2 linked regions of the Homo sapiens genome follow. The protein of the gene in region 2 interacts with the protein of the main gene of each other region in a pairwise test. Each region holds a gene or a part of one and is shown on either strand. Other genes may lie near its edges.

The links. Proteins that work in one complex are often made in the same cells at the same time.
Region 1: the proteins of CABP5 (region 2) and ZNF664 interact in binary tests that used the Homo sapiens proteins (3 or more experiments, as listed by UniProt).

What each region holds. Positions count from the first base shown.
Region 1 is NC_000012.12:123,979,715-123,983,214, reverse strand, and holds part of ZNF664 (zinc finger protein 664), read right to left. Parts: intron 1-3,500. UniProt on the Homo sapiens protein: May be involved in transcriptional regulation.
Region 2 is NC_000019.10:48,034,080-48,037,579, forward strand, and holds part of CABP5 (calcium-binding protein 5), read right to left. Parts: intron 284-3,500; coding exon 136-283; intron 1-135. UniProt on the Homo sapiens protein: Inhibits calcium-dependent inactivation of L-type calcium channel and shifts voltage dependence of activation to more depolarized membrane potentials. Involved in the transmission of light signals.

The DNA of each region.
Region 1 (3,500 bases), on a different chromosome or scaffold from region 2:
CCACCTTGTGACTCTCCCACATGGATTAGCTGTAGCACAACTTGCTTGCTTTCTTTTTTTATTTTTTTGAGACAGGGTCTCGCTCTGTCACCCAGGCTGGAGTACAGTGGCGTGATCATGGCTCACTACAGCCCTGCCTTCCAGTGATGCTCCCACCTCAGCCTCTTAAGTAGCTGGAACCACAGGTGTGTGCCACCATGCCTGGCTAATTTTTGTATTTTTGGTAGAGACGGGGTTTTGCCATGTTGCCCAGGCTGGTCTCAAACTCCCAGCCTCAAGCCATCTGCCTGCCTTGGCCCCTCAAAGTGCTGGGATTACAGGCATGAGCCACCATGCCCAGTAGACACAACTTTCAACCTGGGCTGAAAGACTTCAATTTGCTAAATCTAAGATTCACTCCTGATCCCTTTATTACATCTCTAGGCCGTTTGAAACTACTGCTCCTGTCCATTCTTGAAACTTTCTAACTTCCAGGACGTCTCTCCTGAGTGTCCTCGTCTGCACTCCCTTCTAGCCAGTCCACCAGGCTCACACTAAATGAATCTGCTCCTGTAAGCGCTGCAACAGTAAAACCGATACGGTGAGCGTGGAACCCAAGCTAAGCCAATCAGATTGTCCTTCTAGAGAATTTGGAATTGGGAAGTGGGAAGTGGAAAGACTGGGTCTGTGATGTGAGCTGGCAGAAGTTAGAGTTTCAGAATGGCCTTCCAGAGTGACCACCTGGGGTCACGTGTTATTTACTGCCAAGCGAGAGAAGAGATTAGGGGGAGGGCAGGCACACATAGAAGCATAGGGCAGACACACAGTGAGCAGGAGAAGCCTGGGAGATGAAGGCAAAGAGCACAGCCACACTGACTGCCACCAACTTCCCAGCGACTGGGCCCCAACCTCTGATGAAGACATCTACCTTCCTCTCTAATGACTTCTGTTACCTTGGCAGGCACTTTCTCCGCTACCTTTTCTCCACTTGTCCTTCAAGGTACCCATGCTCCAGCCATACTATTAACAGCCAGGTGGGCACTCACACATGGATGAAAGGGCACCACTCTGCCTATTTCCTGGCCTGCCCCTACGTGGAAGGGACCAGTTTACCAAGATGAAGAGAAATCACTCCCAGAAGTCAGGTGTACTCTGACAACAGGATGACTGACAAAAGGACCACTAATGCCCAGAGGAACCTCCACCACCCACTCAGAGAGGCAAGAGTCTACCCAATGAACCCCAAAGACAATCATGGTATTATCTGAAGTCGAGGTCATGCAGTCTCAAATAATTCTATGTGAAAAATATCAATGGTCCAGTCTATCTAGACAGATATGCCCCAATTTACAGAAGTACAACTATATTGCAAGAAAAATTTACCATGTAGAAATATTGATTTTAATACCATAGCTATGTATAGTATCTAGTCATTCTTACAGCAAAACATGTGTACTGTAAAATTATTCTTTGTAAATCCTCTTCGTGACACACCTATGTGTCCTATAAGACCTTCAAACTCAAGTACATCCAAAACTGAATCAGTCACTTCCTCACCAAAGCCTACTATATTCCTGTCTTAATCTGTTTTCTATTGCTTACAAGAGAATACCTGAAACTGGATAATTTATGAAGAAATTTATCTCTTACAGTTATGGAGGCTGAAAAAGCCCAGGACCACATCTGGTGACAGCTCTCCTGCTGGTGGGGACTCTCCAAAGAGCCCTGAGCCGGCACAGGGCATCACACGATGAGAGGGGGCTGAGCATGTTAACATGCTGTCTCAGATCTCTTTTCTTTTTATAAAGCCCCCAGGTCCCCTCCCATGACAACCCATTAATCTATGAATGGCTCTGCCCTCATGAGCCAAACCTCTGAAAGGCCCCACCTCTCAACACTGTCACATTGGGGATTAAGTTTCAACATGAGTTTTGGAGGGGACAAATATTCAAACCATAGCCAATTCCCAACTATAGTAAATGAGTCCACTCTCCCCTCAATTGCCCAAGTCAATATCATTGACTTCCCCCCATCACAAAGGTCTAGCCACTCTCTTCCAAATACCTCTGGAAACTCTCCACTGTGTACCTGCATTGTCTCAACTTAACTCAAGCCACCATCATCTTCCCTGGAATTCTACAAAAGCCTCCAGTCTTGCTTCCCTCTAATCCATTATCTACTCTAATGTAACCTTCTAAAATGCAAAATGGATTGTTCTTACCCTACTCACAAGTTTTCAATGGGTCCCAATCATTTTCAGTGTAAATTCCAAATTTATTCATTGGCTTTAACCAAAAAAAAAAGTGCTCATGTCTATTTGCCATGTAGCTATCATGTCCCAGATATACTTTGTTAAATCAAATGTTCCATCATACATGTAATACAGGTACATGTAATCTTGGCAAATACAAAAAAGATTATTTAAATCACCCGACATCCTACCGAATTCCACAATTCTTAAGATTTCCATCTAATTTCTTCTACATATTTTTGCCATTCATAGGTTTTACTGGAAGGCTGCTGGGACTTTTTTTGGGGCGTTTTCATCATATCAGGTATACAATTGTGTATCCTGATTTCCTTCCACTTAACACTATCATAAGCATTTTAATATATTTTCTTCATAAACGTTTTTAATGGCAATGTTATTTGCCACTAAATATATGATATAGGGGATGTATCATAACCATTCTGCAAACTGTGCCCATAAATATAATTCTACAATATACATATTTTGTGCAGAAAGCTTTTCTCTGTATTTAAAAATATTCTTTTGATGGTTCCTAGACCATCAAGAAATGTAAATAATTTTAAGACTCTTGACACATATGGCCAATGTAACATAAGAGTGTGTCATTTTTACCACATCCTTTTAGGTACTAGGCACTGTATATTTTTGTCTAAATCTAGACCTTCATGAAATTGGTGAGAAATTGTAACATCTTCCTTACAAAAGTAAATGCCCATTGTAAAAAAAACTGAAGCAATGCAAACACATGTGATATGAAAAACCAGTCTCCCCTAGGCTTTTCCCATGAAGTAATCAGAATTAAATGTTTTCAGGTATTCTAGTCTTTTTCTAATTCTTATTCAGAATATATATATATACACACACTCACCCTTCATTATTTTGTTTTGTATCTTACAAAAAATGAGATTAAGCTTGCTTTTTTGGCTCAACAGTATATTCTAGACATCCATACAGGCTATGTCAGTACATACAAATCTACCTCTCTATATAAAAAACTAATAGGCTAGACATGGTGGCTCATGCCTGTAATCCCAACACTTTGGGAGGCCAAGGCGGGAGGATCACTTGAGGCCAGGAGTTCAAGACTGGCCTGGGTAACGTGGTGAGACTCCGTCTCTACAAAAAAAATTTAAAAATCAGCCAGGTGTAGTGGTGTGTGTGTGTGTGTGTGGTCCCAGCTACTTGAGAGGCTGAGGCAGATCACTTGAGCCCAGGAGGCTGAGGCTACACTGAACCACATTCCGTACCACTGCACTCCAGCCTAGGCAAC
Region 2 (3,500 bases):
ACCTGCCACCCGCTTCCATTCTCAAACTTGGAGAGGAGTGAGAAGGAGTGGCCAACTTGGAAAATCTGACAGTGAGTTGGAAGTGGATTCCTGCGGTGGCTGCCCCCGCTCCCCACCACGCCCCGTCAATGTCACCTTCAAAGTCAACTGTGCCGTCTCCATTAACATCAGCCTCCCGGACAACCTCAGAGATCTCCCGGGGGGTGAGCCGCTCCCCCAGGAGTCTCTGCATGGCCTGCTGTAGCTCCACCAGGGTGATCTCCCCATCTCCATTCGTGTCAAACTGAATAGAAGCAGAAATAGATTATATCAGCAATGACAATGATGATAGCCACGAGATGATGGAGTTTACCTATCGCTTACTGTGGGTCAAGCACTGAGATAAAAGCTTTGGGAATGTGAGCCACTAGAACGTCAGCTCCAAAAGACAGTTTTGTTCTGTTTTTTTTTTTCTTTTTTTCTTTCTTTTTTTTTTTTTTTTTATTTGAGACAGTCTCACCCTGTCACCCAGGCTGAAGTGCAGTGGTGCAATCTCAGCTCACTGCAGCCTTCACCTCCTGGATTCAAGCGATTCTCGTCCCTCAGCCTCCCGAGTAGCTGGGATTACAGGCGCGCACCACCAAACCTGTTTAATATTTGTATTTTTAGTAGAGACAGGGTTTCACCATGTTGGCCAGGCTGATCTTGAACTCCTGACCTCAGTTGATCCACCTGCCTCAGCCTCCTAAAGTGCTGAGATTACAGGCTTGAGCCACTGTGCCCGGCCGAAACTTTTTTTTAATGAGACGGGGTCTCACTATTTTGGCCAGGTTGGTCTTAAAATCTTGGCCTTAAGCAACCCTTCCACCTTGTCCTTCCAAAGTGCTAGGCTTACAGTCCTGAGCCAAAGTGCCCAGCGATACATTTAAAACTTACTTTTTAGGTGATTTTTGAAACATACATTATTATTTACTATAGTTATCCTGCTGTGCAATAGATCTCAAAAGTTATTCCTCCTGTCTAACCAAAACTTTGTACCCTTTGACAAGCAACTGTCCATTCCTTCTCTGTGGCTCCCCAGCCTCTGCTAACCACCTTTCTTTTTATTTGCATGAGTTCAATTTTTTAAGATTCTGCATGTAACATCATGTGGTATTTGTCCTTTTGTGCCTGGCTTATATAGCTTAGAATAATGTGCTTCATGTTTATTCATGTTGTTGTAAATGATAGAGTTTCCTTCTTTTTAAAAGCTGAATATGCCGGACTCAGTGGCTCATGCCTGTAATCCCAGCACTTTGGGAGGCCAAGGCGGGTGGATCACCTGAGGTCAGGAGTTCGAGACCAGCCTGACCAACATGGAGAAACTCCGTCTTTACTAAAAATACAAAATTAGCCAGGCGTGGTGGCGCATGCCTGTAGTCCCGGCTACTCGAGAGGCTGAGGCAGGAGAATCGCTTGAACCTGGGAGGTGGAGGTTGTGGTGAGCCAAGATTGTGCCATTCTACTCCAGCCTGGGCAACAAGAGCAAAACTGTCTCAAAAAAAGAGAAAGAAAATTTTAAATGACCCATGCTGCTTACATTGTATTTATTTTGGATGACACAGCTGTAGGCTGAGGAAGCTGCAAGTTAACAAGTGCCGTAAGGCAGGAAGGTGTACTTGAGGAAGAGGCAGAAGTGGGGAGTGTTTAGGGAGGCGTGAGCTGGGGAGAAATGAGCATGAAATAGACAAGGTCTCAGTGTTGCAGAAGGCAGGGCCCAAGTACGTAGGGGCTTGTGTGTCATGGGACGTTGTCAGGATTTGGTTCTGAGTAAGACAAGAAGCCACTGGAGAATTTTAAGCAGGGGAGTGACCAGATCTGATATACATTTTAAAAGAATGTGAGCATGAAACCCTGTTGTGTAGAGAACAGACCACAGTAGGACCACGATGGGAGCCAGGAAACCAATTAGAGGGCCGCCATGATCATCCTGGTAGGAGATGGTTGTGGTTTGAGCCAGTTAGCACCAGCAGAGCTCAAGAAGGAGAGTTCACTCCCCGATGTTTTGGAAATTGAACGTACTAGACTTTCTGGTAGACTAGTTAAGGGTGTGCAGGGCAGAGCTTTGGAGGCAGTTCATTAATTCAACACATATGTATCCATATTGCTAAAAAAAAATGTGTCAGTAGTGCCCATGTGGAAGGCACCGTTCTTGGGACTGAGCACGGAGCAGCAAGCAAGACACTTAGAAATACTTGTCTTCTGTACCTGGCTTATTTCACCCAGCATACTGTCCTCCAGGTTCATTTGTGTTGTTGTGTGGGGCAGGATTTCCTTCTTTTGTAAGGCTGAATATTGCATTTAAATATATACCACGCAGAAGGAGAAATACTGCATGATTCCACTTACATATGAAGTACTTAAAATAACCACACTCATAGAAGCAGAGAGTAGAAGGATAGTTGCTGGGGGTTAGGAGGACAGGGAAATGGGGAGATATTGTACCATGGGTATAAAGTTTCAGTTACGCAAGATAGGTTCTAGAGATCTGCTGTGTGGCATTGTGCCTATAATTAATAATACTGCATAATGACAAATATTGCTTTTAATGGCAAAATCACAATTACTTTTGCATCAATCTAATAACTATGGGCAAAAGACGTGAACAGCCATCTCTCTAAAGAGGACAAATGGGCAAAAGACGTGAACAGCCATCTCTCTAAAGAAGACAAATGGGCAAAAGACGTGAACAGCTATCTCTCTAAAGAAGACAGACAAATGGCAAACAAGTTCGTGAAAAAAATGCTCAGCATCACTAATCATTTGGGAAATTTAAATTAAAACCACAATGAAATATCACCTCACATCTGTTAGGATGGCTACTGTTAAAAAGATGAATAATAACAAGTGTTGGTGAGGATGTGGATAAAAGGGAACCCTGGTACACTTTTGCTGGGTATGGAAATTAGCACAGCTATTATGGAAAATGGTATGGAGGTTCCTTAGAAAATTAAACCTAGAGCTGCCATATGACCCAGCAATACCACTTCTGGGTATGTATCTAAAGTAATTGAAATCAGTATATCAAAGGGATGTTTGCACTCCCCTGCTCATGGCAGCACTATTCACAATAGCCAAGGTATGGAAGCAACCTGTGTCCATCAAAACAGAAGAGTGGATAAAGAAAACATGGCATAAGTACACAATGGAATACTATTCAGCTTTTTTTTTTTTTTTTTTTTTTTTTTGAGGTGGAGTTTCGCTCTTTTTACCCAGGCTGGAGTGCAGTGGTGCGATCTTGGCTCACTGCAACCTCTGCCTCCCGGGTTCAAGCGATTCTTCTGCCTCAGCCTCCTGAGTACTTGGGATTACACGCATGTACCACCACGCCTAGCTAATTTTGTATTTTTAGTAGAGACGGGGTTTCTCCATGTTGGTCAGGCTGGTCTCAAACTCCCGACCTCAGGTGATCCACCCACCTCAGCCTCCCAAAGTGCTGGGATTACAGGCATGAGCCACTGCACCTGGCCTTAAAATTTTCT